7 linked regions of the Homo sapiens genome follow. The protein of the gene in region 2 interacts with the protein of the main gene of each other region in a biochemical or structural test. Each region holds a gene or a part of one and is shown on either strand. Other genes may lie near its edges. The genes, in order: CDH1, GNA12, S1PR4, PRKCB, PRKCE, PRKCD and CDH15.

Region 1 (3,500 bases), on a different chromosome or scaffold from region 2:
CCAGCCTATAAATGTATTTAAATACACAGAAGCAGTCTGGAAGGACCCACACCTAACTGATTTAACACCTAACTAATTTCACCCACATGGGTATTAACATTTTTCAGGTAAAGGAATTGAGGGACATAAAAATTAAACAGCAGGCCAGGCACGGTGGCTCACACCTGTAATCCCAGCACTCTGGGAGGCCAAGGTGGGCAGATCACAAGGTCAGGAGTTCAAGACCAGCTTGGCCAATATGGTGAAACCCCGTTTCTACTAAAAATACAAAAAATTAGCTGGGCGTGGTGGTGCACACCTGTAATCCCAGCTACTTGGGAGGCTGAGGTAGGACAATTGCTTGAACCTGGGAGGCGGAAGCTGCAGTGAGCCAAGATTGCACCACTGCACTCCAGCCTGGGTGACAGAGCAAGACTCTGTCTCAAAAAAAAAAAAAAAATTAAACAGCAAATCCAAGGTCACACAAGTATTAAGCTTTGGAAATGGATTGTAAACCATCATTACCTGGTTCCCTTAGGGAAGGAATAAAGAGTGAGTAGTGAAAAGTAAGTTCTGTTTGACCAAAATTACTTGAAAAAACAATTTTTTTTTTGGAGACAGAGTCTTGCTCTGTTGCCCAGGATGGAGAGCAGTGGCGCAATCTTGGCTCACTGCAGCCTCCACCTTTCAGACTCAAGCAATCCTACCACTTCAGCCTTCTGAGTAGCTGGGCCTACAGGTGCTCACCAACACACTCAGCTAATTTATGTACTTTTTGTAGAGACAGGGTTTTGCCATGTTACCCAGGCTGGTCTTGAACTCCTGGGCTCAAGTGATCCTCCCACCTCAGCCTCTCTAAGTGCTGGGATTACAGGTGTGAGTCACCGTGCCCAGCCCACTTGAATTTTTGATAATAAGAATGCCTTTGTTTAAGAATAAAAGAGAAATCTTTTGCAGCAACATGGATGAAACTGGAGGCCATTGTCTCAAGTGAAACGAATCAGACATATAAGGAGAAATACTGCATGTTCTCACTTAGAAGTCGGAGTTCGATAATGTGTACACATGGATGTAGATTGTGGAATGATAGACAATGGCAGCTGGGAAGGGTCCAAGGGGTGGGAGGGGGTAGATGATGAACAATTACTTAATGGGTACAATGCATGTTATTTGGGTGACGGATACCCTAAAAGCCCTGACTTTACCACTACACATCTATGCATGTAACAAAATTACCCTTGTACTCCATACATTTATACAAATCAATCCAGCAAACAAAAAGGATAAAAGAAAAAGAATGAACTCTTCCCTCCAAAAGAAGGGAGGGGCAAGGAACTGAACTAGCTAGGAGGTCGAGGCAGCAAAGGCTCAGATGAGGCCCCCTTACCATTGTCTGTAGCTATGATTAGGGCTGTGTACGTGCTGTTCTTCACGTGCTCAAAATCCTCCCTGTCCAGCTCAGCCCGAGTGGAAATGGCACCAGTGTCCGGATTAATCTCCAGCCAGTTGGCAGTGTCTCTCCAAATCCGATATCTGAACGGGGACAAGCTCTGGCTTTTAGAATAGGACCAGCAAACAACATGTAGCTGAAAACGGCTTAAGCGCTTCTTCAGTTATATGGTTACTTCCAACGTTTTTATTTTGAAAACCAACAATAGGCCGGTCGCGGTGGCTCATGCCTGTAATCCCAACACTTTGGGAGGCTGAGGTGGGCAGATCACCTGAGGTCAGGGGTTTGAGACCAGCCTGGTCAACATGGTGAAACCCTGTCTCTACTAAAAATACAAAAATTAGCTGGGTGTGGTGGCACACGCCTGTAATCCCAGCTACTGGGGAGGGTGAGGCAGGAGAATCGTTTGAACCTGGGAGATGGAGGTTGCAGTGAGCCGAGATTGCACCACTGCACTCCAGCCTGGGCAACAAAAGTGAAACCCTTTCTTTCTTTTTTTTTTTTTTTTTTTTTGAGACGGAGTCTTGCTCTGTAGCCCAAGCTGGAGTGCAGTGGCGCGATGTCGGCTCGCTGCAAGCTCCACCTCCTGGGTTCACACCATTCTTCTGCCTCAGCCTCCGGAGTAGCTGGGACTAGAGGCGCCCGCCATCACGCCCGGCTAATTTTTTTGTATTGTTAGTTGAGACGCGGTTTACACCGTTTTAGCCAGGATGGTCTCGATCTCCTGACCTCATGATCCGCACGTCTCGGCCTCCCAAAGTGCTGGGATTACAGGCGTGAGCCACCGCGCCCGGCCGAAACTCCGTCTTTAAAAAAAAAAAAAAAAAAAGAAAACCAAGAAAACCAACAATACAACAGACAAGTTACTATAATAGTATGATGACCATCCATGAACTCTTCACCTGAGTTTACTCATTGTTAATACTTTGCCACATCTGCTCTGTCTATATTGACACACGCCTACATAATTTCTTGTTCTGCTGAACCATCTGCAAATAAATTGCAGAAGTCATGTTCCTTTACTTATAAATATGTCAATGTGTTATCTCCTAAGAACAAAGGCATTCTGTTATATAACCCCAATTTGATTTTCTTTTTTTTTCTTTTCTTTTTTTTTTTTTTTGGGACAGAGTCTCGTTCTGTCGCCCAGGCTGGAGTACAGTGGCGTGATCTCAGCTCACTGCAAGCTCCACCTCCCAGGTTCATGCCATTCTCCTGCCCCAGCCTCCTGAATAGCTGGGTCTACAGGCACCCGCCACCACGCCCGGCTAATTTTTTGTATTTTTAGTAGAGACGAGGTTTCACCATGTTAGCCAGGATAGTCTCGATCTCCTGACCTCAGATGATCCACCCATCTCGGCCTCCCAAAGCACTGGGATTGCAGGTGTGAGCCACCGTGACCAGTCTTGATTTTCAATTTTAGGAAACAAAACTTTGATAGAATTCTATTGTCGAATATATGGTGCATATTCGAATTGTCAGATTTTCCAAAAATGTCCTTTATAGCAACCTTGCACCCTTCTGGATTCAGGATCCAATATGGCCTTTCGTTGGCATGGCTCTTCCTTAGGTCTTTCTTTTCTGTCACTGACATTTTTGAAATGTGCTGGCCGTTGTTTTGTAGCATGCCCCTTAACTTGGGTTTGTCTGATTATTCCTCAAAATTTAGATTCAGGTAATCCATTTCAGGGGTCGGTGGGGGCAAGAACAGGACAGAGGTGATGCTGTGGCCTCCCTAGTGCAGGACACTGGGAGGCACATGATGTCTGTCTGTGCTTCTATTGATAACTTTGATCACTTGGATAAGGGAAAGGCCACCAGATTTCTTCACAGCAAAGGTGCCTTTTTTCACTGCATGATTAACCTATAATCTGCAGGTAGATAATTTGAGAATATCTTGTTCAGCAACTAATTTTCACCCAATGGATTTGGCATCTGTGGATGATTCTTGCTGAAGCAATGATTACTATAATCCTTATTTATTTTTAAAAGCAGACTCCTGCAGACCAGCTCCCCCAAACAATACAGTAGTTCCTAAATGGTGGCAACATGCCACCTCCTCTCCTGTCAT
Region 2 (3,500 bases):
TGTGCCTGGCCTAACTGTTGAGTTTTGAATGTCCTTGTATATTCTAAATGAGTCCTTTGTCAGATATGGCAGATGTGTGGTTGGCAAATATTTTCTCCCAGTTCATAGCTTCTTTTCAGCCTCTTAAGAGGGTCTTTGGCGGAGCAAAATATTTTCGTTTTCATCAAGTTCAATTTATTGATAATTTTTCTCGTGTGAATCATGTATTTGGAGTCACATCTAAGAACTTTGAGCACACCCTACATCCTGAAGATATTCTCCTATGTTATATATAGTTCTACATTTTGATTTGATTTTGTATAAGCTGTGAGGTTTAGGTCAAGGTTCTTCCCCACCCCCTCCCCCGCTCCCCCCAATTTTCTTTACCTGTGGAAGTCCACTTCCTCCAACAGCGTTTGTTGAAAAGACCAGGCTTCCTCTTTTTAATTGCTTTTGCACTTTTACAAAAATTACCTAGCTGTATCAGGGGCTATCCCTGGGTTCTCTGTTATGTTCCATTGATCTGTGGGTCTGTCACCTCACCAATACCACACAGTCTTGATTATCATAGCTATATAATAAGTCTTAAAATCAGATAGACTGATTGTTCCCACTTTTCTTTTTCAAAGTTGCTTTAGCTAATTTAATGCTTTTTCATATAAATTTTCAAATAATCATATTTATATCTACAAAAGATCCTGCTGGGATTTTATGGAAATTGTGCTAAACCTGTTTATTAATTTAAGGATATTGGTACCGTGTTGAATCTTCTAATTCGTGACCGTGGTATATCTATTAGATTTTGAAAATTTCTTTCCTCAACATTTTGCAGTTTTCAGCACATAAGTCCTACACATATTTTGTTAGATTTATACCTGTTTCGTTTTTTTAGTGATAGTTAGTAGTAGTACATCTTTCATTTCACTTTCCACATGTTCATTGCTAGTATATAGAAAGACAATTGAATTTCGTGTGTTGACATTATATCCTGCAACTATTCTGGATTCATTTGTTTATTCTAGGAGTTTTTTTGGTAGATTACTTTGGGATTTTCAACATAGATCATCTTTTTATCTGCAAATGGGTTTAGTTGTGTGTTTTCTTTTTTTGTGTGTCTAATCTATTTGTTTTCCCCCCTGCTTTTCCTGAGCTGTGTGATCTTTTATTTCATTTTCCTACCTTGTCGCACTGGCTAGAACTTCCAGAACCATGTTGAATAGCAGTAGCAGAAGTAGGCATCTTTGTCTTTTCCTAGTGTTGGAGGGAAAGCATTCAGTCTTTCACATTAATTATGAGGTTAGCTGTATGTTTTTTTGTCAGTGTTCTTTATCAAGTTGAAGCATTTCTCTGTTCCTAGTTTGCAAAGGTTTTTTAAAATCATGAGTGGGTGGTAAGTATTTTTTTTATCCATACATTTGTCTTTCTAGCCAGACTCTGAGTTTCTGGGGGTCAGATACTGCTTCTTAAAGTTTGTTTCCCCCACAAACAAACACACTGAACAAATGTTTGTGGATTGGTAGAACTAGGCATGGTCTCCAACGGCAGACAGACAAGGTCCTGAGGGGAAAATCAGGGAGCATCTCTAACCAGACCGTCCTGGTCAGCTGGGTCTGGAGGAGACTTTCAACTACTCTTTGGTCATCATTACGTCTGACTCAGTGGTTCAAGGCAGAAGTGGAAGTTATAGGCACCAAATTGATGCTGCAGGAGAGAGATGAAGGAGGCAGAATGGATTCATCTGCTCTGCCCTGGGTGTCAGAAATGAAGATTTTTAGGATAAGTGCCAACTAAAAATCATTAAGTTGTACACTTCAAATTGATGAGTTATATGGTACATGGATTATAGCACAGTAAAACTGTTATTTAAAAAGGAAAAAAAAAAAAAGGCCGGATGCAGTGGCTCACACCTGTAATTCCTAGTGCTTTGGAAGGCTAAGGCCAGAGGATCAGTTGAGCTCAGGAGTTTGAGACTAGCCTGGGCAATATAGTGAGACCCTGACTCTACGAAAATCTTAAAATTAGCCGGGCGTAACGAGGCATGCCTGTGGTCCCAGCTCCTTGAGAGGCTACGGGCAAGGATCACTTGAGCCCAGAAGGTCGAGATTGCAGTGAGCCATGTTCATGCCACTGCACTCCAGCCTGGGTGACAGAGCAAGACCCAGTCTCCAAAAAAGGAACATAGATAAGTGCCTAGTGAGCAGGTGACCCTGGTTTTCTCTGTCCTGGAGGATGGGATGCTGCTCTCAGCTGGCCTGAGTCCCTCAGATTGCTCTGAGATGAGAAGGCTTTTCCAGATGGACAGATGTGTACTTGATAGCCTTCTCAGGGCCCTTGACCACTCTGTATACCCCCAGTGTAGACCATACCAGAGAGTATGCAGTGTGCCCCTCAGAAGAACACAGAAGTTCTCATAAACACTGCCTTGCTGATTTCGAAACATTAGTCTAAGGATGGTGGAACAGACCTCCTAACTGCTCAGGGGGTGCTGTTTTTGCTGAGAGAATATTTTCCAAAGGCTGGCTGCATTCCCTAATACTATGTTAGTTATTTCTTCATCCCTTTGACCCTGTTGATGAGGTAAGAAGGGGCAGAACAACATTAACTTTATCTTTAACAATGAGGAAACAAGCAAAAGAATGAAAAGTAGTTTCTCATCACAAACGATGGTGACGTTAAATCTAGAACATGATCCCCTGGCTCCCGTTTTGGTGGGCGGGCTACTTGGCTTGTCGTATTTTAGTCTTTTCCTGTCTCATGACTGCTGACTGCCTGGATTTGTATGTTTTCCCACCCGTTTTAAGCTGGAAGAAGCAGTTGTATCTTTTGGAATAGAGGAGCTGCCAGATTTCAGTGATGATGACAATAGTAGCGCTGGTAGTACTCTTGGCAGTACAGTCATCTCCCGTTATCCACAGCCAGCCGCCAACGGAAAATAGGCGCGGACGGTGATACCACATTTGAGAGACAGAAGGAGAGACCATATTTACTTAACTTTCATGACAGTATATTGTTATAATTGTTGTATTTTATTATTAGCTATTATTAATCTCTTACTGTGCCTAATTCATAAATTAAATTAAACTTTAAAAACAATACAGGTAGGGCTTGGTACCGTTCAGACATCCACTGAGGGTCTTGGAACTTATGCCACGGATAAGGGGTGGAGGCTACTATAGTTGTTGTTAAAACATTGTTTTTTTGGCGGGGAGGCTGAGGCGGGCGGATCAGCTGAGGTCAGGAGTTCGAGACCAGGCTGGACAACATGGTGGAACCCCCCTCTCTACTAAAAATACAAAAATTAGCAGTCCGTGGTGGTCTGTAATCTCAGCTAAAAATAAAAAATTAGCCGGGCCTGGTGGCAGGTACCTGTAATCCTAGCTACTTAGGAGGCTGAGGCAGGAGAATTGCTTGAACCTGGGAGGCGGAGGTTGCAGTGAGCCGAGATCACTCCATTGCACTCCAGGCCAGGGCAAAAAGAGTGAAACTCCATCTAAGAAAAAAAAAAAAAAAAAAGTTGTTTT
Region 3 (3,198 bases), on a different chromosome or scaffold from region 2:
GGCCTCAGTTTTCCCTTCTGTAACGCATCAGGCTCTCTGGGCCTCAGTTTCCCCTTCTGCAACGCATCGGGCTCTCTGGGCCTCAGTTTCCCCTTCTGCAACGCATCGGGCTCTCTGGGCCTCAGTTTCCCCTTCTGCAACGCATCGGGCTCTCTGGGCCTCAGTTTCCCCTTCTGCAACGCCTCGGGCTCTCTGGGCCTCAGTTTCCCCTTCTGCAACGCATCGGGCTCTCTGGGCCTCAGTTTCCCCTTCTGCAACGCCTCGGGCTCTCTGGGCCTCAGTTTCCCCTTCTGCAACGCCTCGGGCTCTCTGGGCCTCAGTTTCCCCTTCTGCAACGCATCGGGCTCTCTGGGCCTCAGTTTCCCCTTCTGCAACGCATCGGGCTCTCTGGGCCTCAGTTTCCCCTTCTGCAACGCATCGGGCTCTCTGGGCCTCAGTTTCCCCTTCTGCAACGCCTCGGGCTCTCTGGGCCTCAGTTTCCCCTTCTGCAACGCCTCGGGCTCTCTGGGCCTCAGTTTCCCCTTCTGCAACGCATCGGGCTCTCTGGGCCTCAGTTTCCCCTTCTGCAACGCATCGGGCTCTCTGGGCCTCAGTTTCCCCTTCTGCAACGCACCGGGCTCTCTGGGCCTCAGTTTCCTCTTCTGTAACGCATCAGGCCCTGTTTCGGGGATCAAGTCGGATGAGTCAGTGCTCAAGGGCATGCAGGCACTTGACATTTATTAGGCACCTGCTGTGTGCTGAGCGCCGGTGGAGCATGTGGGGAGACCTCAGTGGAGCCGACGGGTGCTTCGGGGGTGATCAGGGCTGGTGGGGAGGAGTCGTCCGGCTGGAAAGGGGTGGCCCATCCCGAGTGGGGACTCATTTCCCCTCCGTGACTGACGGCTCCGGGGCTCCCTGCGGGTCTCCGGCTTTCGAGGACAGGAAGAAGGCAGCCAGGGCAGGGGTGGGGGTCCTCACAGCCAGGGCAGCCCCAGCGCGTTGGCTCCAGGAGCCCGGGTGGGGGCCGACCGTTGGGGTGCCCCTCCCTGTCCTCGGCCTTACCTCCACCCTGGAGGGCACCTTGAACATAACAGGAAATTTCAAATAACAGGAAACCAAGACCAGCAAGGCGGGTGGCTCCACCCTGCGTCGGGCCTCAGTCAGCCCCCGGGGGAGGCCATGAACGCCACGGGGACCCCGGTGGCCCCCGAGTCCTGCCAACAGCTGGCGGCCGGCGGGCACAGCCGGCTCATTGTTCTGCACTACAACCACTCGGGCCGGCTGGCCGGGCGCGGGGGGCCGGAGGATGGCGGCCTGGGGGCCCTGCGGGGGCTGTCGGTGGCCGCCAGCTGCCTGGTGGTGCTGGAGAACTTGCTGGTGCTGGCGGCCATCACCAGCCACATGCGGTCGCGACGCTGGGTCTACTATTGCCTGGTGAACATCACGCTGAGTGACCTGCTCACGGGCGCGGCCTACCTGGCCAACGTGCTGCTGTCGGGGGCCCGCACCTTCCGTCTGGCGCCCGCCCAGTGGTTCCTACGGGAGGGCCTGCTCTTCACCGCCCTGGCCGCCTCCACCTTCAGCCTGCTCTTCACTGCAGGGGAGCGCTTTGCCACCATGGTGCGGCCGGTGGCCGAGAGCGGGGCCACCAAGACCAGCCGCGTCTACGGCTTCATCGGCCTCTGCTGGCTGCTGGCCGCGCTGCTGGGGATGCTGCCTTTGCTGGGCTGGAACTGCCTGTGCGCCTTTGACCGCTGCTCCAGCCTTCTGCCCCTCTACTCCAAGCGCTACATCCTCTTCTGCCTGGTGATCTTCGCCGGCGTCCTGGCCACCATCATGGGCCTCTATGGGGCCATCTTCCGCCTGGTGCAGGCCAGCGGGCAGAAGGCCCCACGCCCAGCGGCCCGCCGCAAGGCCCGCCGCCTGCTGAAGACGGTGCTGATGATCCTGCTGGCCTTCCTGGTGTGCTGGGGCCCACTCTTCGGGCTGCTGCTGGCCGACGTCTTTGGCTCCAACCTCTGGGCCCAGGAGTACCTGCGGGGCATGGACTGGATCCTGGCCCTGGCCGTCCTCAACTCGGCGGTCAACCCCATCATCTACTCCTTCCGCAGCAGGGAGGTGTGCAGAGCCGTGCTCAGCTTCCTCTGCTGCGGGTGTCTCCGGCTGGGCATGCGAGGGCCCGGGGACTGCCTGGCCCGGGCCGTCGAGGCTCACTCCGGAGCTTCCACCACCGACAGCTCTCTGAGGCCAAGGGACAGCTTTCGCGGCTCCCGCTCGCTCAGCTTTCGGATGCGGGAGCCCCTGTCCAGCATCTCCAGCGTGCGGAGCATCTGAAGTTGCAGTCTTGCGTGTGGATGGTGCAGCCACCGGGTGCGTGCCAGGCAGGCCCTCCTGGGGTACAGGAAGCTGTGTGCACGCAGCCTCGCCTGTATGGGGAGCAGGGAACGGGACAGGCCCCCATGGTCTTCCCGGTGGCCTCTCGGGGCTTCTGACGCCAAATGGGCTTCCCATGGTCACCCTGGACAAGGAGGCAACCACCCCACCTCCCCGTAGGAGCAGAGAGCACCCTGGTGTGGGGGCGAGTGGGTTCCCCACAACCCCGCTTCTGTGTGATTCTGGGGAAGTCCCGGCCCCTCTCTGGGCCTCAGTAGGGCTCCCAGGCTGCAAGGGGTGGACTGTGGGATGCATGCCCTGGCAACATTGAAGTTCGATCATGGTACGTGATGTTGCGGCCTCTTATTCCCTGGTGCGTGCATGCGTGGGGGCCGTGGCTCAGGGGGGCTGTGGATCTAGGGGCAGCCGGGTGTGTCTTTGCTAGAGAGGGCCACGGGCCAGTGCCCTGTGAGGGTGGAGTGTGTGTGTGTGTGTGTGTGTGTGTGTGTGTGTGTGGACAACCTCTGGGCGTTGCGGGAAGTGGGGGTGACAATGACAGTTAATGCCGCCTCTTCTTGTTCACTTCCCCTTTAGAAATGGCAGGGCCCATGCCCCATCTCTGGCCTCTGCATCTTTTGGGGACCCACTCTCTGGGGCTGGCAGAGGCACCACCTTGGCTTCCTGGGCTGGGGGAATCTTCCCTCACATCCCCTTCAGCATGAACGGCCTCGGCTTTCCCGGTGGGTAAAACAGTTTAATCACTGAAGCCGAAGCACAGGGTTGATTGTACACGCTCCCCGCCAGCCACAGGGGCTGACAACTGCCTGCCCCGTGAAACTCCAGTGG
Region 4 (3,500 bases), on a different chromosome or scaffold from region 2:
TCATCCTCCCCTTCAAAGGGTGCCTGTATGACAGGGGAGGGTGGGAGGAGAAGAATCCCTGCTTGAACCCTCCCCCTAGCTCCCCTCAACTGGCAGACCCTCCTCCCTGGGGCCCACAGTGAAGCCACACACCCAGGCTTTCAAATGACCACAGACTTGTATGACCCCAAGGCCGGGAAAGTCATAGAGGTTCCAATTTATGAGCTGTTACCAAACATGCATTCTCCTAAAGAAACCATGTGGATGGGGGTAGGGAGGACTTCTCTTATCGATCACTTAAAATTCAATTACCTGCCCAGCCAACATTTCATACAGCAGGACTCCAAATGCCCACCAATCCACGGACTTCCCATAGGGCTGATAAGCAATTATCTAGAAAAGAGAAGGCACCCTATCAGGGAGGTTTGCAGTTCATGTTTCTTCTGGAGACAGATTTCACTCTTCTTTTACAAGAAGGCCAGTGCCCACCTGAACTGTTTCTTTATATTAGCTATTCAGGGAATGACAGACATGCTTTGCAGAGGCACCTGCAGCTGGGCAAACACCTGTGGCTGTCACATTGCCTTTTCGAAGCACTAAGTAAGGTGTATTGTTATTATTATTTTCAAAACAGTGAGCATGGAATTTTTAAAAGGAAAAACTGTCTTTACTCCTCTGTAAAAGTTACAACATTTACACAATAATGTAAATATACTTAACACTACTAAATTGTATACTTAGAACTGGTTAAAATAGTAAATTTTACGTTACATGTTTTTAAAACATAATTAAACATAAAAACGTTTAAGAGATAACAACATTTGTCACTATTTTAATATTTCTTTATAAAAGATAGCTCAGCTGAGATAATAACATGAAAATCACCCATAATCCTTTATTAAGAGAAAAATTATGACTAATATTTGGTCTACTTCATTCCATACTCTTTTCTCTGAATACATATTAAACTCTGTGTGTATGTGTGTGCTTTACATAAACACTTTAGTATTTGGACGATTTTTTTTCTTTTTTTCTTTTCTTTTTTTTTTGAGATAGTGTCTCTTTTTGTCACCCAGGCTGGAGTGCAGTGGTGAGATCATAGCTCACAGCTCACAGCCTTGGCCTCCTGGGCTCAAGCAATCCTCGCACCTCAGCCTCCTGTGTAGTTGGGACTACAGGTGCTCACCACCATGCTAATTATTTAATTTTTTGTAGGGATGGGGTCTCTCTATATTGCCCAGACTGATCTCAAACTCAAGCAAAGCTCCCATCTTGGCCTCCCAAAGCACTGGGATTATGGGCAATAGATCTTTAATAAAGCCAGTTATTCACTTAAGTTTTCCTTGCTAATTTAATATTTGTATATGAACATAATCAATTTTTATCTGTGCATAGCATTCCGTTGAATGGATATACCAAAATCTATCTTATAAATTTCCAGTTGATTAGGTTTCTTCCAATGCTGTAACATATATTCTTGTAATTAGACATTTGGACATCTGTCCAAGTATTTCCTTAAGATAAACTCCTAGATGTAGAATTGGTGTATCATATGGTATATATGGTTGTGAAGTTTTTAATTCATATTCCCAAACTGCAAGAACATGGAAAAGTCTAGAAGAGCTATGTGATTGTCCATCTTTCAGTATGCAGGGATGTAAAACTAACCATGTCAGAGGTTAAGAGGTAATACAGCAAAGGCTAAAGGCTGAGGTCTGAGGGTTAGGCAGTCTGACTTTGAATCCTGACTGCTGTCTACCGGTTGGCTGTCTGACCACAGGAGAAGTTACTTAACTTCTATAATCTCTATATCATGAAGTTATGTGAGGATGAATGAGATACTCGGTGGCTTTCACATATTATGCCCTCAAAATGTTAACTAATCCTAGAATGTTTTATAATTCAGTTATTGCTTGTTTAACTCAAAAAGGGTATTTGAGCAAACTTGGCTATAAAGTGAATGTTTGTTTCTTGATCTCTATCTCCCACTTTGATTTCTATTCCAAAATCAGAAATGCAGAGATGTTGATTACAGGATACAAAATTTCAGTTAAGTAGCAGGAATAAATTCAAGAGACTTATCGTGTAACACAGTAACCATAGTTAATAACAATCTATTGTATTCTTGAAAATTGCTAAGAGGGATTTTTAAGTGTTTTTACCATAAAAAAATAAGTATGTGAGACAATAAATATGTTAATTAACTCAACTTAGCCATTCCACAATGTATGCATATTTCAGAACAACATGTTGCACATGATAAATGTATACAATTTTACTGGTCAATTATGAATGAATGAAATGCATTCTGAGAAGTAACCCTCAAGACAAGGAAGGGAAAGCATTCCAGGAGAACACTTCTCATTGAACGTGTTTTCCACTTTGGGAGGCCGAGGCGGGCGGATCACGAGGTCAGGAGATCGCGACCATCCTGGCTAACACGGTGAAACCCCGTCTCTACTAAAAAAATACAAAAAAAATTAGCTGGGCGTGGTGATGGGCACCTGTAGTCCCAGCTACTCGGGAGGCTGAGGCAGGAGAATGGCATGAATCCAGGAGGCAGAGCTTGCAGTGAGTAGACAGAGTGAGACCCTGTCTCAAACACACACACACACACACACACACACACAAGAAACAATGTGGGATGCCCAAGCATCATCCCATTAGAATCTCTGCAGGTGGAGGCCCAGGATCTGTGGTTCTCAGAAGTTCCTCGCTGGTCGTGATTCAGGCAAGCACAAGAAACCCTCAACTGTGTGGCTGGTGAAGTTGCCTCCCCTCCAGCCCACAGATGGGAGGGATAAGCAGCAGGTCAGGCTTTGTCATGAGCTAACCACATCACCTTCGGCAACTGCTGTCACATCCCAGGCTCTAGTTTCCTTTGTAAAAGGATTAACTTGTTGGCTTGTCATGAGGATCAAATAAGACTTGAAGTACTTTAAAAGTGTGGAAACACTTTCTTTCTTTCTTTCTTTCTTTTTTTGAGACAGAGTCTCGCTCAGTCGCCCAGGGTGGGGTGCAGTGGCATGATCACTGCTTACTGCAGCCTCTACCTGCTGGGCTCAAGTGATCCTCCCACCTTAGCCTCCTGAGTAGTCAGGACAGCAGGGGTGACCTAGTGCACCTGGCGAATTTTTAATTTTTTTTGTAGAGATTAGGGTCTCACTATGTTGTCCAGTCTGGTCTCAAACTTCTACCCTCAAGCGATCTTCTTGCCTCAGGCTCCCAAAGTGCTGAGATTACAGGAGTGAGCCACCATGCCCCAGCTGCATCCTACATTGTAAAAGCTCCCTCACGACTCTAAACTGCAGTTAGAGTTGAGAACCAGAGATTATGGAACCCCTGGCCTATCAGGAAGTTGTGTTATGGATTGTGTCCTATCTAATTAATTAACAAAATGATAATAGACCAAAGCATATCACATAGGGAAAACTTCACTGGGTCCGAGTAAAGCCTTATTATTTTTAAAGAATTACTTTATTACTCAAGTAATACCCAAATACATTTACCTTGTAAAAAAT
Region 5 (3,500 bases), on a different chromosome or scaffold from region 2:
ATCCTTTACACGTGGCAAGAAAATGGGAATAATCATCTCATGCCTCGGATCAGGGTCCTCTGCCCTTGGTGCCATTCTCCATATCCTGTTCCCACTGAGATGAACACAGTGGTGTGGGGTGTGGCCTTTAGTATGCTCAATAAAGCACTAAAGGTGATCAGCCACCATTCCGATGGCTGGGTGAGATGGAAAAATTAACTCCTGTTCATTTAGAAAGAAGATGAAGGGGCAGGGAGCAGAGGAAGCTGTTTGCATTTCACCTGAGATCTCTGATTGTTCCCTGGTTCTGTTCAGAGCTAAGCCTGGGAGTCACCTTTCTGGGACCCCCTGAGAAGTTCTGGGAGGTCCTGCTCTGGGGACCAGGAAGCTCCTGGGATCACATGCCCTGGCATGTCCTGGACTCTTGAAAGCAGCAGCCTGTAGGTCAGTCAGCTGGCCCATCCCACCTGGTTCCCAGCCGTCTCACCTGCCCCTATCTCACCCTGATACCACTCTGGTGGGAAGGTAACTGGGGTTTACTTAAATGGCAAAAGCTGAAGCAATTACATTCTTTAGAGACTGACTAAATAAAAAGAGGTCCTCTGGTTAGGCATAACTCTGGGACCTGAACAGGATGTGGTCTAATTTTGAGCAAGACTCCGAGATTCTAGGTTTTCATATAGTGTAGGCAGAATGGGAACTTAGATGACTTTGGAGCATTTAGGTTATCTCTTAGGAAAAATCACAGCCAAAGTTTGAGCCAGTTTTAAAGAGTCTGTAAAATACGCGGGCGACAAAAAGTCTTCAGGTTAACATCATGAATTCCCTCATTAAGTTTCTGATGGCTGCTTTTTAGCTTTGATGACTTACATTGGAATACTGTACTTAGGAGTTACTTATTTAAGAAGAGAAAGGCTTGTGACGTTTGTAGGTAAATGAGTGCAAAAATATCAAATGATAGGAACACTTTAAGAACATAGAACTGTTAATTAGCTCTCTTGAAAAGGAATCACGTTTCCAGCTTCAGAGTTATAAAAGAAACCATAAAGGCAAACAAGGACAGATTCAACTACATAAAGATACATGATTCTTTTCAATAGAATAAAATAACAGAAAATTATAAAACAGGCTTAGAAAACCTTTTACAGAAAGTAAAGGGTTAGTATCTTTATATATCACATGTGTATAAATTTGTAAGAAATTAATATGATAGCAGCATAATTAGACAAAGGAGACGTGAATAATTTACACGAAAAGAAATACAGTCAGAAAACAGTTAATTTTAAAGTTTCATTTTAAGTAAAAATAGCATCAAGGTAACATTTCACACCTATTAAGTGAGCAAAAATACTTTTTAAGTGAAACTACTCAGTATTGGTAAGTCACCATGAAACTCCAACACTTCTACATTGCTAGTGGCACATTGTATCACACATCCTTTCTGAAAATAGGAAATGTGCAAAATGCTTCACCCTTTAATCTACTTATGAGGGTTTCCATCTTACAAATGTAATCCAAGAGAAATTGTTTTAATTGTGTACAAAAATACTCAATGCAACTTATATAATACTTAATGATTAGATATAACTGAAGTGCCTAATTTGAGGGAAATGGTTAAATAAATTATATTTACTTGAATTGAGTATAAGCAACCGTGATAATAATGGAGACCATATGGAGAATGTCTGTAAGATAATGTTCAGTTAAAAATAGTTACATTATTTTACTGTACTGTAACTGTAAAAATAGTTGGTGTACTGTAATTGTAAGTATGACAAACACATATAAACATATGAATAACCATTCAACAGATGTGCATTGAACTTCTCTTTTCTATGCCTGGGCATTGTGCCAGAGATCAAAAATAAATAAATTGTAGTAACTATTAGAATGTAGTAACTGTAGAACGGTAGTAATTGTAGAATAGGAAGTTTTCTTAAACATTATGTATACATCTTGAGAGGGGGTCTTGCTATGTTGCCCATGCTGATCTGTAACTCCTGGGCTCAAATGATCCTTCTACCTCAGCCTCCCAAGTATCTTGGGTGCATGCCACCACACCAGGCTTGTTATAATATTTAAAATTAAAGAAAAAACAGAATTCGTTTTTGAAGTATTTGGTATTAGCTTACACTTCTTCTTTTTATTCCATACATGCATAGATTGATGGAGGCAATTGATTGATTGCAGGTCATGTTGGCAGAACTCAAGGGCAAAGATGAAGTATATGCTGTGAAGGTCTTAAAGAAGGACGTCATCCTTCAGGATGATGACGTGGACTGCACAATGACAGAGAAGAGGATTTTGGCTCTGGCACGGAAACACCCGTACCTTACCCAACTCTACTGCTGCTTCCAGACCAAGGTATGTTAGGAAGAAGCTGGCTGGCTGCCATGTTGGGGCATCTTGACTATCAGATAAAATACCAATTTTAGACCCTCTACATTGTTCTCTCAAAGACTTTGTAAAGTGGGATGGGTTTTACCCTTGAAAAGATCAGGATGTATTTGAACAGCATCTTCTTTTTTAGGGCACAGGATTTTCCATTCAAGGTTGTGCTTGTGAAGGGATGAGAGAGCTGTAGAATTCTTTGCAGCCAGAGTTGGACAAAGCCAAATGGCTAAACTCACTGTTTGCTCATTGGAAAAACCAACAAGTGTGGTTAGTCCTTGCTCTGCTCCTAACTTTCTATCACTAATCAAATCACTTAACTTCTAAGTTATTTTCATGTCATATGAAAAAGAGTAAAGGCCACCTTAATCTCTTCTAATCTGTGTAATGTCATCTGAAATAAAGGATGTGAACAAATGCTTAAAATTTCATAGTGAAACACAAATATAAGGCAGCATTTTTAATTTACCGCATAGGTGTCTGGGAACCAGAAGGTGGCAGTAAAGAAACAAAGATAATCCATAACTCCATGGTAGAGTCTGACTCGAGTATTATTAACTAATTTGTTACCTGTTTTTAGTAAAGAAACAGCAATGTTCTTCATGAAGCTCTAATTTTGTTATCCTTTTTGAGGGGTTGGGAGGAGTTAAAGTCTTTTAGGATCATTATGGATGTTTGTAGTATTTTGCTTCTTGAGAAGGCAAAGACAGACATCACCTGAAACTCCTAGCTGTGGCTTATGTGGAACCCAGACCCTGAGGGTGACATCATGGAGAGGTGATACCTTGCTTCTGGGTGTATTCTCATCTCCATGTCATTTTGAATGCCAGTTTTTCCACTTAAAATTCAATAGTTATTCATTGAGTCATTTGGCAAACTTTTCTTTTATTATATTTCATTATATCCTTCCCGTGTATCTGATGCCATGCCAGGTGCTGGAGATACAGTGGTGAACTAGACTAGTCCCTGACCTCATGGAGTTTACATTATCTTTGGTACACCGTTTCCCAGAGAGGATTTCTCAGAACCCCAATCACTTGAGCAGCTGTAAGAAGAAAGGACTCTGTGACCCATAGTTGGAGTCACTGCAAACGTAACCTCTCTTAGTCTCAACACACGTATGTTTATTA
Region 6 (3,500 bases), on a different chromosome or scaffold from region 2:
ACAAGCAAGGCTACAAATGCAGGCGTAAGTGTCTCCACAGGCCAGTTTGTACGTATGTACCCATGTGTGCTCACGTGTGCCAGTGCCTGTGTGTATGCCAGTGCCTGTGTGCGCTCAGAGAGTGTATGCACGTGAGTTTTCCCAGTGTAGATACAGCAGCTGAGTTCAGTGAGTGCTGGGGCTGGCTTGCTGCTGCTCTGGAAAACCAGTTCTGCGCATCTCTTCCCAGCTCCGCATTCAGTGACGGGGAGTTGGTGGATGGCAATTGGGCACAGTAGAGTATTCACGCAGAAACCAGCCCAGGCCATGCACCAGGCCTCTTTTCCTCGGAGAGGCAATGATAGGTCCTTTACTGGCACATAGTGGCTGCATGTGCTTCTGTGTAGATGTGGGTGTCTCTGAGTACACAGGTGTGAGCACACTCTGTCCCTGAGGGTGTATACACGAGGCGCCGCAGGCTGGAGTCAGACTGCCTGGGTTTGAATCCCAGCTCTACCACTTCCTAGCTATAGGGCCTTAGGCAAAGTTACTTAACCTCTCTGTGCCTCAGTTTCCTCATCTATAATTTTTTTTTTTTTGAGACTGAGTCTCATTCTGTTGCCCAAGCTAGAGTGCAGTTGTGCGATCTCAGCTCACTGTAACCTCCCTCTCCAAGGTTCAAGCGATTCTCTTGCCTTAGCCTCCTGAGTAGCTGGGATTACAGGCGTGCACCACCATGCCCGGCTAATTTTTGTATTTTTAGTAGAATAGGGGCTTTGTCATGTTGGCCAGGCTGGTCTCAAACTCCTGACCTCAAGTGACTCACCCACCTCAGCCTCCCAAAGTGCTGGGATTATAGGCGTGAGCCATCGTGCCTGGCCCTCATCTATAAATTAGATATAACTATAATGTATAATAGGGTCATTGTGAAGATCAAATGGAATAAGATATGTAAAGCTGTATTTTAAGTGCCTTCCACTGGTAGCCGCTCTGTGTAAGAAGTCTGTTATCATTATTACACATGCTTTGTGTGTATGTACAGGTGTCTGTTTTGAGGCGTGTCCATGTGCATGTGTAAGAGAGGGCATTTAGGAGCCGTTTGCTATCCCAGGGCTTGGAAGAACTGCCCCCGCTTCTCATATTGCGATGCCCTGTGCCCGCTAACTTCTGCCCACCTCCCTGCCCACTAGGACTCCTTCTTTCTAAGCCCCTGCAGATTGGCCTGTCCTCTCCGCCCCGTCCTCTCCAGGCTCCTCCTTCGAGGGCTGGCAGGAGGAAGACTCAAGCGCTGGGCCTCTGCGGGGTGAGGGTGTGGGCGGTCAGGAGAACGGTGGCTTTGTGTAGAGGGCTAGACTGGTCGGCAGGCACCAGCTCATAGACTCTGCCCCTCCCGGTGCTTTCCCTTCCCCCTCCTGGGCCTGTGCCTCTTCAAGAATGTAACGCTGCCATCCACAAGAAATGCATCGACAAGATCATCGGCAGATGCACTGGCACCGCGGCCAACAGCCGGGACACTATAGTGAGCCTGGGTCCGGGGCAGGGCTGGGGATCTGGGGGGCTTGGCCAGATGGGAGGGATTTGCACCCTCTCCCCACCCTCCCTGGGGAGCTTACCCTCCCTCCCCATTTTTCTTAGTCTTTCCTTGCCTCTCCCAGTGGAGCTCTCTTGGGATGTTGTTGTGCCCAGGGTTGGGGGAGAGCTAGGGGTTGAAGAAGAGGCTGGAGCTGGCACGTGACCCTCAGCCTGTGATACCCCCACCTCCAGTTCCAGAAAGAACGCTTCAACATCGACATGCCGCACCGCTTCAAGGTTCACAACTACATGAGCCCCACCTTCTGTGACCACTGCGGCAGCCTGCTCTGGGGACTGGTGAAGCAGGGATTAAAGTGTGAAGGTGCGTGCCACCCCGCCCCTGGGCTGCAGGAGGGGCACTCCCAGCTGGTGCTGCTGTGAATTCCAGCCACCTCACGCCACCCTCGCCTCCTCACCTGGAGACGGGCACCTCATTCAGGGACCTGATGAGGGTGAGGCCTTGGTGGACCCTCCCCACTGGCCTGACTGGCTCTGCCACTTACCTGCTGTGTGACCACAGGTGGGCGGCTCCACCCCTCTGAGCCATTTGGAGGAGAAAAGCAGGACCTAGAGAGTCCCTGTGAGGGGCCAGTGGGCAGAGGGTGCTGAAGCCAGGCCTGGTGCACACCGACAGGCGCCCAGACAGGCCTCCCCTGCCCTCTGCTTCACTTAGAGATGAGACAGAAGACCCTGGAGGGAAAGCGGCTTAAGTTGACCAGATGTTCTTTAAAGGGTTTCGAATTAGGTCCCTGTCTTCTGGTTTTTCCTTTTTCTTTAAATCATGAAAGATTGGCTGGGCGCGGTGGCTCACGTCTGTAATCCCAGCACTTTGGGAGGCCGAGGCGGGCGGATCATGAGGTTAGGAGATCGAGACCATCCTGGCTAACATGGTGAAACCCTGTCTCTACTAAAAAAATACAAAAAAATTAGCCTGGCGTGGTGGCGGGCGCCTGTAGTCCCAGCTGCTCGGGAGGCTGAGGCAGGAGAATGGCGTGAACCCAGGAGGCAGAGCTTGCAGTGAGCCGAAATCATGTCACTGTACTCCAGCCTGGGTGACAGAGTGAGACTCCGTCTCAACAACAACAACAACAACAACAACAACAACAACAAAAATCATGAAAGATTGAAATGCTTGGCCGGGCGTGGTGGCTCACACCTGTAATCCCAGCACTTTGGGAGGCCGAGGCAGGTGGATCACCTGAGGTGGGGAGTTCGAGACCAGCCTGGCTAACATGGAAAAACCCCGTCTCTACTAAAAATACAAAATTAGCCGGATATGGTGGCGCATGCCTGTAATCCCAGCTACTCAGGAGGCTGAGGCAGGAGAATCCCTTGAACCCAGGAGGCAGAGGTTGCGGTGAGCCGAGATTGCGCCACTGCACTCCAGCCTGGGCAATAAGAGGGAAACTCCATCTCAAAAAAAAAAAAAAAAGAGAGAGAGAGAGAGAGATCGAAGTATTTATGATGGCTTCAGATCAATGTTTTCCTAGAAACTGGAACCCAGCAGACCCCACTGAAGCCCTCCTTTCTCTTGCTCTCCTGCGCCTCTCCTACACTGCCCCCTGCCCTTGGCTGAGCTCTGAGACTGACAGCCCCGCTTCTCCCTCACCCCAGACTGCGGCATGAATGTGCACCATAAATGCCGGGAGAAGGTGGCCAACCTCTGCGGCATCAACCAGAAGCTTTTGGCTGAGGCCTTGAACCAAGTCACCCAGGTGGGCAGGTGCCATGGGGACCCTGGACACAGGGCAGTGGGGTCAGGGACAGTCAAGGCTTACAGCCACTGCTGGGGAGCCACAGACAGCCAGGATATATTTAGACCCAGGACTCTACTTCGGGAAGATGCAACTCAAGAATTTAGGCAGCAGAGGGAGGGGGGCTTTTTTTCATAAGAAATTCATTATTCAGGCAGTTCTTTACTTGAGGGTGAACCTGGGGACCACAGGAGT
Region 7 (3,500 bases), on a different chromosome or scaffold from region 2:
CCTGCACCGCCTCAGCCTGCTGCTCCGGGACTCGGGGCAGCCGCCCCAGCAGCGCGAGCAGCCTCTGAACGTGACCGTGTGCCGCTGCGGCAAGGACGGCGTCTGCCTGCCGGGGGCCGCAGCGCTGCTGGCGGGGGGCACAGGCCTCAGCCTGGGCGCACTGGTCATCGTGCTGGCCAGCGCCCTCCTGCTGCTGGGTGAGTGAGCGCCCCGCCTCCACCTGGACCCTCGGACCCTCGGACCCTCCTCCCCAGGCCGTCCCCTGCTAACCAGCCACGCCGCTTCCTCCCCAGCTCCGCCTCCTCCCTAACCCCGCCCCCTCATTACCAGCCACGCCGCTTCCTCCCCAGCTCCGCCTCCTCCCTAACCCCGCCCCGTCATTACCAGCCACGCCGCTTCCTCCCCAGCTCCGCCTCCTCCCTAACCCCGCCCCCTCATTACCAGCCACGCCGCTTCCTCCCCAGCTCCGCCTCCTCCCTAACCCCGCCCCCTCATTACCAGCCTCGCCGCTTCCTCCCCAGCTCCGCCTCCTCCCTAACCCCGCCCCCTCATTACCAGCCTCGCCGCTTCCTCCCCAGCTCCTCCTCCTCCCTAACCCCGCCCCTCAGTACCAGCCACGCCGCTTCCTCCCCAGCTCCTCCTCCTCCGTAACCCCGCCCCCTCAGTACCAGCCACGCCCCTTCCTCCCCAGTTCCACCTCCTCCGCAACACCACCCACTCATTACCAGCCACGCCGCTTCCACCCAACCCGCCCCCTGCTCGCCAACCCCGCCCCCTCATTACTAGCCACGCCCCTTCCTCCCCAGCTCCGCCTCCTCCCTAACCCCGCCCCCTCATTACCAGCCACGCCCCTTCTCCACTGCCGCCTCCTCCCCAACACCACCCACTCATTACCAGCCACGCCGCTTCCACCCAACCCGCCCCCTGCTCGCAAACCCCGCCCCCTCGTTGCCAGCCACGCCTCTTCCCCAAGCCGGCCTCTCCTTACCAGCCAAGCTCCCTCCTCCACAACCCGGCCCCCTCCTCCCTAACCTCGCGGCTTCCTCCCCAACCCCGGCTCCTCCATGCCAGACACGCCCTTTCCCCAACTGCCGCCCCCTCAACCCCACCCCTGCTTACCAGCCTTGCCCCGCCCCGCCCCCTCCTCCCACCTCCTTCGCAGCCCGGCCCCCTGAAGTCGCGCCCTGTGCCTGGCCCCAGCCTGCGTCCCCTCATTCCCCAGTGCTGGTCCTGCTCGTGGCACTCCGGGCGCGGTTCTGGAAGCAGTCTCGGGGCAAGGGGCTGCTGCACGGCCCCCAGGACGACCTTCGAGACAATGTCCTCAACTACGATGAGCAAGGAGGCGGGGAGGAGGACCAGGTGAGGGGGCAGGTGTGGGTGGGGAGGGGTCCCCAAGGAACCCAGGTCGCGGGCCTTCTTACAACAAGCTGGCCAGGAGCCTGTACCTGAGACCTCCACCAGGGCCACCCGAGGGATGCCTGGCTCTGTTCCACCTCCTCGCCCACAGGACGCCTACGACATCAGCCAGCTGCGTCACCCGACAGCGCTGAGCCTGCCTCTGGGACCGCCGCCACTTCGCAGAGATGCCCCGCAGGGCCGCCTGCACCCCCAGCCACCCCGAGTGCTGCCCACCAGCCCCCTGGACATCGCCGACTTCATCAATGATGTAGGTGCTCCTGGGGACACCCCAGTACACACAGGCACGCACAGGTGCACACACACATGCACATGTACACACCTGCACATGCATGCAAGAACCGGCGCCTGCATGCACTTATGGGCCGTCCCAGAGCACCGCAGAGGAAGATGGTGTGCGGGCGGGAGTGTGGAAGCCCCGCTGCCACCGTCCAAACTGGGCCCTCAGCCTCCACCCGCGACGCGGGTCTTTGCACAGATGGAGTGGCGATGGCCACAGACCCATCCACTGCCCCGTGTCCACCATGGAGGGGGTGGGGGAGCCCCGGGAGCATCCCCTGGGCTTCGGTGGCTGTCAGCGGAATCAGGGCCTCCATAGAAGACCCTCTGGACACAGCGTTAATGATTCCCTGCCATCCACAGGATGAATGTGCACACGGGGAATCTGGGGTGTGGGGCGCACAGGGAACCCTCCTCTGTGCCTGTCTGCACCTGTAGCACCTGGCTCAGAGAAAGCCCCCAGCCAAGGTGTACACCCCCGGTTAGGAGCGTGTGTCCCCACGAGCTGAGAGGACAGACATGCAGACAGAGCCTCCGAAAGGCAGACGGGCCGTTCTGCGGATGGGGGTGTCCAGGAGGCTCGGGTTCTGCCTTGAGTGGACAAGGGCCACGGGGAGGAAGAGACCAGGGTGAGGGGGAGCAACCCCTTCCCACCTTGCTGGGGCAGGGCAGAGCCCCGGGGGACGGGCTGGCCGCTGGCCTAATACTGAGGAAGGGGGTAGTCCGTGGCACCCTCTTCACAACCCTGCTGCTGTGCCCTCAGGACGCTTTGCCTCCCCTCAGACCTCGCCCCCGGACGTGGGCAGCTTCCCCTTCCTGAGCCCGTGCCTTGAGCTGACTTTGCCCTGGGCTGTGGCCACGGCGGTGGGGCACCCGCTGGCCCCTCCATGTGTCTTGAGCTCTCCGGGCCTCTTTATAGGGCTTGGAGGCTGCAGATAGTGACCCCAGTGTGCCGCCTTACGACACAGCCCTCATCTATGACTACGAGGGTGACGGCTCGGTGGCGGGGACGCTGAGCTCCATCCTGTCCAGCCAGGGCGATGAGGACCAGGACTACGACTACCTCAGAGACTGGGGGCCCCGCTTCGCCCGGCTGGCAGACATGTATGGGCACCCGTGCGGGTTGGAGTACGGGGCCAGATGGGACCACCAGGCCAGGGAGGGTCTTTCTCCTGGGGCACTGCTACCCAGACACAGAGGCCGGACAGCCTGACCCTGGGGCGCAACTGGACATGCCACTCCCCGGCCTCGTGGCAGTGATGGCCCCTGCAGAGGCAGCCTGAGGTCACCGGGCCCGACCCCCCTGGGCCTGGGGCAGCCTCCTTCCTGTAGGCGAGGGCCCAAGTCTGGGGGCAGAACCTGAGTGTGGATGGGGCGGCCAGGAAGAGGCCCCTTCCTGCCGGGGTGGGAAGAGTTTCTCTCCATCGGCCCCATGCGGGTCACCTCCCTAGTCCCACCTTTGCCTCCTACCAGTGAACCTCATCTTTGTATGAAAGACAGCAACCTCCTGGGTAAATCTGAATGAAAAACGTGCTAGTCTCTTTCATGCAGGACGGGCGCCCACTGCCACACTGACCATGAGGGGGATGGGGCCAGTGAGGCCTGGCCTGGCAGGGACCTGAGGGCCAGGCCCCCATACCACCCTGCTTGGCTGGGGCAGGAGGCGGCCGGGGGCTGCCACTACCTGGACAGGGGCTATGGAGCAGCCGCTGACACCCTGGCTCCTTGCTGGTGAGCCCAGAGGTGGGGAGCAGGCACAGGTGAGACCCTTCCAGGCCCCAGGTGTGGCCTGAGGGAAGAACCAG

The links.
Region 1: the proteins of GNA12 (region 2) and CDH1 form a complex in vitro, tested with the Homo sapiens proteins (one study listed by BioGRID).
Region 3: the proteins of GNA12 (region 2) and S1PR4 form a complex in vitro, tested with the Homo sapiens proteins (one study listed by BioGRID).
Region 4: of the proteins of GNA12 (region 2) and PRKCB, one has a biochemical effect on the other in vitro, tested with the Homo sapiens proteins (one study listed by BioGRID).
Region 5: of the proteins of GNA12 (region 2) and PRKCE, one has a biochemical effect on the other in vitro, tested with the Homo sapiens proteins (one study listed by BioGRID).
Region 6: of the proteins of GNA12 (region 2) and PRKCD, one has a biochemical effect on the other in vitro, tested with the Homo sapiens proteins (one study listed by BioGRID).
Region 7: the proteins of GNA12 (region 2) and CDH15 form a complex in vitro, tested with the Homo sapiens proteins (one study listed by BioGRID).

What each region holds. Positions count from the first base shown.
Region 1 is NC_000016.10:68,817,292-68,820,791, reverse strand, and holds part of CDH1 (cadherin-1 isoform 1 preproprotein), read right to left. Parts: intron 1,513-3,500; coding exon 1,367-1,512; intron 1-1,366.
Region 2 is NC_000007.14:2,795,809-2,799,308, reverse strand, and holds part of GNA12 (guanine nucleotide-binding protein subunit alpha-12), read left to right. Parts: intron 1-3,500. UniProt on the Homo sapiens protein: Guanine nucleotide-binding proteins (G proteins) are involved as modulators or transducers in various transmembrane signaling systems. Activates effector molecule RhoA by binding and activating RhoGEFs (ARHGEF12/LARG).
Region 3 is NC_000019.10:3,177,635-3,180,832, forward strand, and holds S1PR4 (sphingosine 1-phosphate receptor 4 precursor), read left to right. Parts: upstream 1-1,134; 5' UTR 1,135-1,158; coding exon 1,159-2,313; 3' UTR 2,314-2,698; downstream 2,699-3,198. UniProt on the Homo sapiens protein: Receptor for the lysosphingolipid sphingosine 1-phosphate (S1P). S1P is a bioactive lysophospholipid that elicits diverse physiological effect on most types of cells and tissues. May be involved in cell migration processes that are specific for lymphocytes.
Region 4 is NC_000016.10:24,181,983-24,185,482, reverse strand, and holds part of PRKCB (protein kinase C beta type), read right to left. Parts: intron 373-3,500; coding exon 292-372; intron 24-291; coding exon 1-23. UniProt on the Homo sapiens protein: Calcium-activated, phospholipid- and diacylglycerol (DAG)-dependent serine/threonine-protein kinase involved in various cellular processes such as regulation of the B-cell receptor (BCR) signalosome, oxidative stress-induced apoptosis, androgen receptor-dependent transcription regulation, insulin signaling and endothelial cells proliferation.
Region 5 is NC_000002.12:46,008,175-46,011,674, forward strand, and holds part of PRKCE (protein kinase C epsilon type), read left to right. Parts: intron 1-2,141; coding exon of another isoform or gene 2,142-2,159; exon of another isoform or gene 2,160-2,169; coding exon 2,170-2,343; intron 2,344-2,509; coding exon of another isoform or gene 2,510-2,563; exon of another isoform or gene 2,564-3,500.
Region 6 is NC_000003.12:53,181,709-53,185,208, forward strand, and holds part of PRKCD (protein kinase C delta type), read left to right. Parts: coding exon 1-24; intron 25-1,412; coding exon 1,413-1,498; intron 1,499-1,743; coding exon 1,744-1,873; intron 1,874-3,165; coding exon 3,166-3,266; intron 3,267-3,500.
Region 7 is NC_000016.10:89,192,248-89,195,747, forward strand, and holds the end of CDH15 (cadherin-15 preproprotein), read left to right. Parts: coding exon 1-197; intron 198-1,222; coding exon 1,223-1,359; intron 1,360-1,507; coding exon 1,508-1,666; intron 1,667-2,614; coding exon 2,615-2,908; 3' UTR 2,909-3,245; downstream 3,246-3,500. UniProt on the Homo sapiens protein: Cadherins are calcium-dependent cell adhesion proteins. They preferentially interact with themselves in a homophilic manner in connecting cells; cadherins may thus contribute to the sorting of heterogeneous cell types.